2 separate regions of the Homo sapiens genome follow, and region 1 is linked to region 2. Evidence: fine-mapped expression QTL. A gene starts in region 2. The other region holds a variant in brackets. All regions are shown on one strand. Distances are from middle to middle.

Region 1 (5,381 bases), 23 kb before region 2:
GGAAGGAAAGGAAAGAAGGAAAGAAAGAAAATATTACAGGTGTGGTGGTTTGTTTTGAAAAGATCATAGAAAGAAGGAGAGACAGAAGGTAGTAGTTGAACAAAAGTATAGACTCTGGTGAGGTTTGTTCATTTTTAGGATAGAGCGCTGTAACATGTTTTATACAAACCAAATTAGGCAGTAAGAAGGGAGAAGCTGAAAATAAATGTAAAAAAGCGGGGATGATTTATAGGTCAGCTCTCAAAAGATGTAAGAAGAAATGAGTTATTATAGGACAAACGGAGTATGAGGTGTTCAGCTTCCAGTAGGAAGGGGGCAGTTCTTTCATTGTTAAAGGAGAGAAGTAACAAAGGGTGTATGTGTGTTGGGGCATGGGGGGCGGTAAGAGAGAAAGGGAGAGAGAGAGAAACATGAGATTCTCTGCAAAATTTGTAATAGAAAGAAAGGAGAGTTCCCAAACTGAGACTTCTGTGCATTGGAGGTTTATGAGGACAGAAGATGATTTGAAATAGCTGTTGTAGAAAAAGGGGGAAGGAAGTTTTGTAAGAAGGATTTATGGGTAGAGGTGAGGGCCTGGTTGAAGTTAGATGTGATGTATTTATAGTGTCATTAATCTGTGTGATTGTGCAATTCTCTCCACCAGAGCTCAGCCATCCAGGTGAAGGTACAGAGATAGATGATCCCAGTTTGACATGCAGGTAAAATGGGAGGGAAGTGGGCAAGGCCATTGAAAATATGGTCAAGGAATAGGTGGCCTTTGACATATATGCTGGGTTGGAATTCATGGGTAGGAGTTTGAATGTAGAGATTGTCTTTGTTTTTTTGAACCAATGTCAGAGTTGAGTAGTTGCAACAGAGACTATATGGCACATGAAGTCTAAAATATTTACCTGCACTTTTACAGGAAAAAATTGCCAACCCCTTCTATAGAACATTAGCTACCTAATGACTTCATATAACACATATAAAGGCAATTAATGATCACGATGATTGATAATGATAATGGCTAATAATGGACTGCTTACCCTGCGGTGGGCATTGTGCCCAGAGTCATCATGTAGATTATTTCATTTAAAACCCTCACAGCAGCCTCTGGTTTAGAAAGGAGGAAATGGAGGCAGAAAATCTGAGTGGGAGAACCAAGGTTTAAGCCCAGGGAATAACTCCAGAGCTCATGTTCTATGCACTTTACCATCTTACCATTGTAGTTTTCATAATTGAGAATCCTAAGCAATGTATCAAACTAACAAAACTGTGGATCAGAAATCAGAGTTCTGCTATTAATTCAATTGCTTTTTAGTTCCAAATGAACATAATATGATACATTTTAAAACTTCACAAGGAGCATTATATAACAAAGCTTAAAGCAAACTTCTGAATGATGAAAACATTTTCAATTCTTAATGTAGGGAGTGTTTGCTGGAGGCAGATTATCTCACCTGCTTATTAACTCATATTTTGGTTTTAAAGAGGCGCCATCTGACAGGATCCAGTAGTCAGGATTAGGTGTAGCTTTAAAACTGCTTGCACATTGAAAAAGAAAATAATAGTTCTATGGCATATCTGGTTCAGGCTTAATTTGCAAGCCAGTTATTGCCGCGGGAACATGCACGTGGTCTAGGGAAAATGCTCATTCAATGAGGATGAACAAGGGCGGTTTCCAAGCGGGCCAAGTTCACTGGAAAATTGTGCTTCAGAGATTTCCATGTCAGTCAGCACTCCAAAATGAAAAGGTCAAAATCAAAAGGAATGAAACACAATCACAAACATCTCCATCATTTGCCTGAGATTTCATGTTTTCTGTCAAACAGTGCTCTTGGTAATTCTATGCCGGTGTGATAGACACAGAAGATGAAATAGACTAAAAAGACCCACTAATACTGCTGTTAATGAGTGAAGAGGAAATGAGGTAAACACCAACGCCATTAAAGTGGTTCTACTTTAGTAAGTAGCATTGAAAGATTTTGAAATTTTGAAGAATAAAGGATTCTTTGGCATCTTTAAATTGTCCTGTCCCCTGCCTCCTCACTTTTCTCAGAAGGAATCTGAATTTCCTAGAAATTCTTCTGTCTTCTTCTTTTTCTCATCCTTGTCTTATCCATCATCTCCAGCTTTAGCAGTTTAGCTTAATTGTCATTTTCCCTAAAACGCTCATTAGCCACAGCCATTTTTTTTTTTTTTTTGAGTTGGAGTCTTGCTTTGTCGCCCAGGCTGGAGTGCAGTGGCATGATCTCAGTTCACTGCAAGATCCACCTGCCGGGTTCAAGAGATTCTCCTTCCTCAGTCTCCCGAGTAGCTGGGGCTACAGGTGCCTGCCACCACTCCCAGCTGATTTTTGTATTTTTAGTAGAGACAGGGTTTCACCATATTGGCCAGGCTGGTCTTGAACTCCTGACCTTGTGATCTGCCCACCTTAGCCTCCCAAAATGCTGGGATTACAGGTGTGAGCCACCATGCCTGGCCAACCACAACTGTTTTTTAATTTGCTTGAAGTTGCGTAGCATTATGTTCTTCACCATGGAGG[A/G]AATGACTCTTCCTTGGCCTCGCCCATCTTACAGTCATGCTTCCTTTCTTCTACTTCCCTTTCCTGGAATAGTAAGTTGAACATGAAATCAACGGAACAACTGCTTAGTTGTGCAAGAGAAGCTTCAAGGAGGACAAAGATGAGGCAGGCGTAGTTATTCTCCTTAAATGATCTTACAATCCAGTAGGAGGGATTAGACAAGAGTAAAAAATAACTCAGTTACAAGGAGGAGCGTGATAATTTCTATTAAAATAGTTTCAACAAATTGCAGTAAGGGATAAAAATGGTAAGAGAGATCATAGGTACAAATTGTGTCACGTCACTCTTTTGGTTTTTATTTTTTTCCTATGATGCTCCCCGGCTGATGAGAAAAGTTCCAAAGCACGATGTGCAGGTTAAACATACCCGTGGACAGCCTGAGCTGATGGAAATGCTCCAGCCTCACCCTCTGTCATCACCAACACACATGCACTCAGGCCTCCCTGGCCCACTCACCATTCCTCAAACAATTCAGATTCTTTCTGGTTTTCACACCTTTGCACTTGCTGCTCCTTTTGCTTAAAATGTGCTTCCTTTCTCTTTTTCTTTTTCTTTTTTTTTTTTTTTGAGATGGAGTCTCGCTCTGTTGCCCAGGCTGGAGTGCAGTGGCTCCATCTTGGCTCACTGCAACCTCCGCCTCCCAGGTTCACACCATTCTCTTGCCTCAGCCTCCTGAGTAGCTGGGACTACAGGCGCCCACCACCATGCCCGGCTAATTTTTGTATTTTTAGTAGAGACAGGGTTTCCCCTTGTTAGCAGGATGGTCTCGATCTCTTGACCTTGTCATCCACCCGCCTTGGCCTCCCAAAGTGCTGGGATTACAGGCATGAGCCACTGCATCCAGCCCTCTTTCTGTTTTTCAAACTCCGGTTCATCCTTGAAAACTTTCTTAAATTTTACCACTTTTTGGTGCTTTCTAACAGTTCCCCAATCAATATAATTTGCTTCTTCTTCCAAGCATGTTACTTTGCATTGCGTTTCTCACAGCAGTCATCATATTAAATTACAAGTATTTGTTTAGAGAATGCTTTCCTCATTCAACTGTGAGCCCAATGGAAGCAGGAGCTGTGACTGGCGTCTTTGTATGGCAAATGCTTAGCACACTGGGTTACAGCAGCTGATGGAGAAAAGCTAAGAAATACCGGGTGTTTGAAATGTGGTTTGAGCCCTGGATAGGATTTGACACACATGTGAACAAAGGCACGAGGCAGGAAATGTTCTGATGACTGATTTGCTTTCAGCCTCCCAGAACCTGCTGCGACATTTCTCTGGGACATGCTCTCTTCAGCTAAGTGTTATTCTGCTCTTTTGAGTGAGGGTCTCATTCTGTCTCCCGGCCTGGACTGCAATGGCATGATCATAGCTCACTGTAGCCTTGAATTCCTGGGCTCAAGGGATCCTCCTGCCTCATCCTCCTGAGTAGCTAGAACTACGCGTGTGCATCGTCAGGCCTGGCTAAATTTTAAAATATATTTTTGTAGAAACGAGGTCTCCCTTTTTCGCCTATGCCAGTCTCAAACTCCTGGACTCAAGGGCTCCTCCTGCCTTGGCCTCCCAAAGTTCTGGGATTACAGATGTGAGCCACTGAGTGCAGCTAAACATTATTCTGCTCTTAAACTAGGTTTTTCTTCTGTTTTATCAACTGTTGCTTGTGTCCCGGGCTCTGTTTTCTGGTAAAAACTTGATAGAGTAATCAGTGCTAAATGTTAGTGTATACATATAACACATAACTGTTTGTGTCTACATATAAAATACACTTTACCTGCTCATTTCGCTAAAGCAAAATCAGTCATAGGTCAGACATTGTGTTAAAAAAAAGTATCTATAAAGACGTGGATGTCAGTCTTTCTCATTACCCTCAAAGAAAGTTTCTCATGAAAAAATTTGGAACTAGAAAAGCATTTATTCTATTTTCTGGCAATTCTGTTAGACAAAGAATTCTGTAAACTTTGATGACTCTTTCACACGGATACTAGCAAGCTCAGGGTTAAATTTCCAGTCATAGAAATTCAGATGTTTTTAGCTAAAAAAAAAATTTATTTTGCTTACTTTTCTCATTGTTTTATTCAGTCAGCATTTATTTATTGAGTGCCTACTATGTGCTAGGCACCTCTTTCATAGGCCAGGGACATAGCTGGAAAGAAGATAGATTCTCTGTCCTAGGGAGTTAAGATTCTAAGAAGAGAAAGGACAAAGGTAGTAAATTGAGAAAACATTTCAAGTTCAAAGCTTTTTATACTTGGTTTGATCTGCATTTTCTTAATTGATTTTGGGCAATTGTACTATGCTTTTATTGCATACAGCCTCAAACTAGCTTTGAAAGTTGTTAGGGTGCAGACATATAAGATAAAATGAAGTGCACATTCGCATGTTAATGTTCACATCTACAGACCACTGTTGTTTTGGGGGGCACACCCTTGGCGGGGAGGGTGGTGAAAGTCACAAGAGGAGAACATGCTCAGGTCAATGGTCCTTTAGGTTCCTTCAGAGTGTACCATGGGGGCAGCTGCCATGTCACCTCATGGCGCTCTGAAGGGAAATTCTCCCAGGTGAATTTCAACATGTGCCTAATGCCAAACTCTTCATCTTAAGCAAACATTTGGTGAAGCAAAGGTTTGGGAGGGTTGGCAAATATTGTGAGTCATTACAGAATCCTATCAACCTTGAATTGTCAACAGGCAGCTTATATCCTTATAAGCATCTTGGCTTATCCTAAGCAAATATTGCTTTCAAAGGTAAATGTCCACGGTGACCTATTTTGTTAACTCCCTGGGCATATCTCATTCTTCTTCTTCTCTTTTCCTTTCTTTTCAATTTT
Region 2 (5,381 bases):
AATTTCTCTCCATATGTGAAGCTTTAAGACTAGAAAACAAGTTATTTGCTCCAAAAATACAATGGTGGAACAGGAATAGGGTACCAGTTACAGATATTCCTGTTCACAAAGGGAGAAAATGGAAGGAGAAAAAGCCAAGAAATTTCAAAAATCTGCAAGGCTAACTCCATAGGTTTTAAGGCCTGTGAATAACCATTTGTGTCTCTAGGCTCTGCCCTCAGAGTCATCCTTCATGAAAGATAGCACAAGTTTGGGGCTGAATAGTTTTATCAGACTGTTTATTGCTTATGGAATTTTGGGAGTCCTATAACCGTCTTTCATTTTATTCTCTCTCTGTACCTTTCAGTTCAAGCTGGCAGTGTTTCTGCTGATATTCTCAGAAATCTTTTGGATTTCCTGTGTATGTCACAGAGATCTTTTTGAAGCACTAGCAAAAGGTTGTCCAGCTGTACTCATGACTTTTTCTCCAGAGTACGTTTTCCCAGCAGTGAGTCTCTTACTTTTACCATCCTTTGCAGTCTTGAAATCCTGATAATTTCCCACATTATCCTTGTCCTGGTTCCTTTTTGATAATAGTCCTTCCCTCTTATAAGGACCCTTCTGATTATATCAGGTCCCCAGATAATCCAGGGTAATTTCCCCATCTCAAGATTCTTAGGAATATCTGCAAAGTTCTTTTTGCAACAGAAGATGACATATTTATAGGTACAAGGATTAGGACATAGATGTCTTTGGGAGACCATTATTCAGTCTACCACAGCTGTAAATAGAGAGAGGTTAACAATATAGGAATGGAGTGAGATTCCTGAGGAAGCTGGAGGTAACCAACTCAAAAGGGAGTGGTTATATTGTATGTGGAGCATGTCATGGGCTTCTTGGACTAGATGGAGGTGTCAGACAGTTAAAAGGAGTCTCTTTAAAACAGATATATTCTTAGTGGACTTGAAGAGAACAGCAAGATGCTGTAGGGTTTTAAGGGCCACTGTAAAAAAGATCAGGAACCTATAGTCATAAACAGTAAATCTGAGGTGAAAAATATTAGACAATTTCCTTCAATGTCCTGGTAAGGGCAAAAAATGGTTTACTAGATTGAGGTGATCAAGTTGCAGTGAAGGTGCAGAGGAAAGAGAGTGGATGAAGCAGTTGAGAATGTTAGTGAGAGGAAGGTTCAGTGCCTGTTCACAGAGTTGATCCTGGGGAGGTGAAAGAGTGGGGCTCCTAAGGAGACTGAGAGATTGAGGCAAGGGGGAAGTCTCTAAAAAGTGGAAATGGAGTTTATGATTTTCAAGTTTCTGGATAATGTCCAGGCTGGAGTTATGGTAACATATTATTAAAGTGGAAGAGAACTGGATATTGATTTGGAGTAGAGTCTGCTTATGTGCATTGTACATATACTTTGCGGTGGGAAGTGGGATGTGTGGAGTTAACATCTAGGGAATCCCCACCTGATACATCTATATCTTTAAGAGAGAAAAACAACAGCAGACAGTCAATTATATTAAGAACATGTAGGGCCCACTTCTACAACCAAAAGAGGAAATCCCCATTAAATTGTATGTGCTTTGGGGGAGGAATAATGACACTGTAGTATTTAAAAGAACTGGAATGAGATAATATATACAGAGAATATTGTAGATATTATCTTTGGAATTAAATTTTGAAGTCTTGGCTACCATTAACTACCTGTAGGGTCATCGACAAGTAATTGAATTCTCTAAGCCTTATTTACCTCATCCATAAAATAGCAACAGTAAAGTTGCTCATGGGATTTCTGTGAGATTTAATGTGATAATACATGTTAAGGGCTTAGCCTATTGCCTGGCACATAAAAAGCTCAATGAATGCTTTTACAGCAAAGCCCAATTTTCTGCTGCTAGCAAATGCATTCTTATGATACAAAGGTCCAGTATCAGATGCTAGAGAGGAATTCATCTGAGATGAACTCATGACTTAATCATGAGTCATTTCAGGTTCTTTCTCAATGTCATCCTCATTGAGAAAGAGAATCATAACTATTTTCAACCAAACATAAAATTAAAGAAAAATCCTGACAGAAGTGAGCAATGTTTTCACCTCCTTTTCGAAGCCACTTTATATTCCAGAGTCTGAGAAAAAACTTTGTTCTTCTGGGCTCTTTCTATTGTGAACAAGTCACTTCCACCCTTTCCTTTTCTTGAAGACAGAACTTCCGGTTTCGATTTCTCTCCATTTATTACCCCATGCCGTTACTGGGGCACCCTCACCACCACCTTGAATCTCAATATATTCTGCACATGCATAACGTCATGGAATTAAGCGTCTGGAGCACTAAAGACCATGATGGGCTGGGGTTGAAACTCGAATTTCAAACATTAATGAGCTTGATGACAAAACTAAAGAGCATTCTTCTTCTCAATTTAAATTCTCTGTGATAGATGATTGGTCTTTCAAATGTTCACACTGGACAGTTATACTATTGGAAATTTTTCATAAAATGAACTTCTTAGGACAGAAACTCAAAGCCCCTAATCCTTTTTTACTCCATTTTTGCCTGTCCAGTACCTTGCCAGAAAAGAAAAACGCCACACCTCACCGCAGACTTTCATAGTGCTTAGCGTGCTGCATTTACTCTCAGCCTCAATTCCTTGTTTAGAGTCCCAGATTTCTCTGCTTTCTTTCCCTTTACAATTACATGCATGTCCCAGATAGCATATCATCGCTTCTACTATTACTTCCCTAAGATTCTCAGAGTAAACCAATGCAGACCTATATTCTACCTCCAGAAAACTGCGGAAATCGAAAAGGCCTCGCGGTGGAGAAAAGAAACCGAAACTAACTCCCTAGATAAAAACTCAGGCGCTGGCTGCTGTGTGGCTCAGAGCGCCCAGTCCGACGCCAGGCTCTGCGCTCGGTCTCCTCTGCTCCACCTCCTCCCCGCGGGGCGTGCAGCTCCGAAGCTCTTTGGACCTAGCAGGTTCGGCGGCCGGGGTGAGGATTGCGGGTGACGTCGGGTGTCGCTAGGGACCCTGGAGCGGAGCTGTCCCGCGGGGGTTCTAGGATTCCTTCAACATCCAGATGGACCGGGCGGGGAGGTGGCCTGGTGGCTTCGTGCGCGCCGGGCGAGGGAAGCTGGGGCGCCCACTGGGCTCGGGCGGCAGCTTCGCGGAGAGGTAGGGAAGAGGGACAACCACCGTGAGAGAGGAGAGTGCTCAGGCATTTAACGGGTCCTCTGCACCCGAGGGGGCCTGGGGATCTGGGGTGCTGAGGAGAAAGTAAGGGTCACCACATCTGAGCACAGCCATTCGAACCTGGACATTGACAGGCAGCAAGCCGCTTCCCTTTTTTCCGTCTTGTATTTAAGCTTTTTTTTTTTTTTTTTTTTTGAGTCAGTCTCGCTCTGTCGCCCAGGCTGGAGTGCAGTGGCGTTATCTCTGCTCACTGCAACCTCCACCTTCCGGGTTCACGCTATTCTCCTGCCTCAACCTCCCGAGTAGCTGGGACTACAGGCACCCGCCACCACGCCCGGCTAATTTTTTTTTATTTTTTATTTTTTATTTTTAGTAGAGACGGGGTTTCACCATGTTAGGCCAGGATGGTCTCGATCTCCTGACCTCGTGACCCGCCCGCCTAGGCCGCCCAAAGTGCTGGGATTACAGGCGTGAGCCACCGCGCCCGGCCGGATTTAAGCTCTTAATAGCGGAAATAAGGTTTTACTATTTCTCTGGAAAGGTACTTTGTTCTTTTTTCCCGCTTCTCTTTTGTTTACAAAGTTACATTGATAAATTTATAATAAACTTCTCAAGGTTTTCCATAATCAAAGAAGCTGACATCATCCGTGATGGGGCCTTAAGGATTATGAAAGCTCCTAATGACTGCTAGAAAAAGCGGTCAGAACCAAACAGAAGCAAGTCCTTTAAAGACACAATAAGAAGTCCAAACCATAACATCAACGACATACAGACCTTCATGATTTCGAGTGTTCTCCTGAAAACAGTAACATACCATTCAATCTAAGATTTGCAGTTTGAAGTTTGGTGGAACTCAGGTGCTGAGAGTTGAGGGTACTAAAATAAATGAGGGTGAGTTATGCTTCCAAGGCTCTTCGCCTTCTATCCCAAAGATATTGGGGATAGTTTAGTGTGAATCCTTCCTGATACTCTACAAAGAGACAAGTTTTTGTCTATAGCTCCTATCTCTCTATCCATCCATCCATCCATCCATCCATCCATCCATCCATCCATCATCCAGCCATCCAACCATCCGTCCATCCATCGATCCATCATCTGTCTATCTCTAGATCCATACACTTTAAAAGATATTTTGGCTGTCATACTGGTATGCTTTTCTTGGTTCATGATTTATTGGTACCTGTCAGTCTTACTTAGTAATTGCTGTATGATACCCCATGGTATGCTGGGTCATAATTGATCAGTTTTATTTGAAGCAGAAGAGAAAGACATAAAACAAAAATTAAATGCCCTTCTCTACTACTTTCCCCTTCATACTTAGTCTCACAGTTTTAGTTCTCCTGAGGCGTTACCACTCCAAAGATATACATTTCTTTCTTGGTTGCTTATAAATTATATGCTTACAAATCAGTCTTTTGTTTTATCTACTTTAGACAGACTCCGACGACTCCCTGTGAAAGAAATACTTCTAATATGAATTATATATTTTTAAAAATTCTTCTCAGGATTAGCTTTATGGCTTTTAATAAAATACCCATGTTAATTATCATCCACGGCTATGTTGATGTGGGTGGAAATCTCTGTGGTTTTCCCTGCTGCAGGCTCATTTTCTGCTTTGTAAGTATGGAGACCTGCTGGTTGATTTACTGATATCACCCTTTTTTATAACCTGCTGCTTGTTTTACTGATGTAACCATTTTTAAGGCAGCTCATAGTTTATTTGGAAATACAATTCTCTAAGAAATGTATCCAGCTTCTTATGCTCTAGTTAGTTCCCTATGCCGTTAATTACACCCAGAGAGTTTCTATTTTCATCCTAATTCCCTCTCAAATTAGCATAATCTGTCTTAAGTTCATTTGAAATGATAGTCTGGCCTGGGAGGGTAACACCTCCACCTAATACTTGCAGCAAGGCTAAGTCCTTCTGTTTAACTGAGAATTCTTTATGAGTCTTTGTTGAGCAAGGTGTTTTTTTTCTTTTTTTTTTGTCCTATCACTTTTTATTTGCAGTACAGAAGCTGTCACCTGTGCGACCCAAATTTCTTGGCTCCCTTCCTTCTTCTCCTCTTTTCCCCTCCCCTCCCCTCCCCTTCGCTTCCCTTCCTTTTTAAAATAGGGATGTGGTCTCATTTTGTTGCCCAGGTTGGTCTCCAACTCTTGGCCTTGAGCAGTCCTCCCACATCAGCTTCCCAAAGGGCTGGGATTATAGGTATG

The links. PIP is the estimated chance that this variant, and not a neighbour inherited with it, causes the effect.
Region 1: its variant is fine-mapped to the expression of DDX60L in whole blood (TOPMed, PIP above 0.99).

The regions. Positions count from the first base shown.
Region 1 is chr4:168,501,396-168,506,776 of GRCh38, reverse strand. All of the region lies in intron 1 of PALLD (palladin, cytoskeletal associated protein), which reads right to left. The region is part of intron 1 of LOC107986198 (a long non-coding RNA gene); the gene reads left to right. Among named protein-coding and RNA genes, the nearest start is that of PALLD, 7.0 kb to the right of the region's middle. The variant A/G (reference allele first, on the strand shown) is at 2,525.
Region 2 is chr4:168,477,963-168,483,343 of GRCh38, reverse strand. It overlaps DDX60L (DExD/H-box 60 like), which reads left to right and starts at 2,852. Exons shown (of 38, transcript NM_001012967.3): 1 at 2,852-2,967. RefSeq lists an enhancer at 2,594-2,833.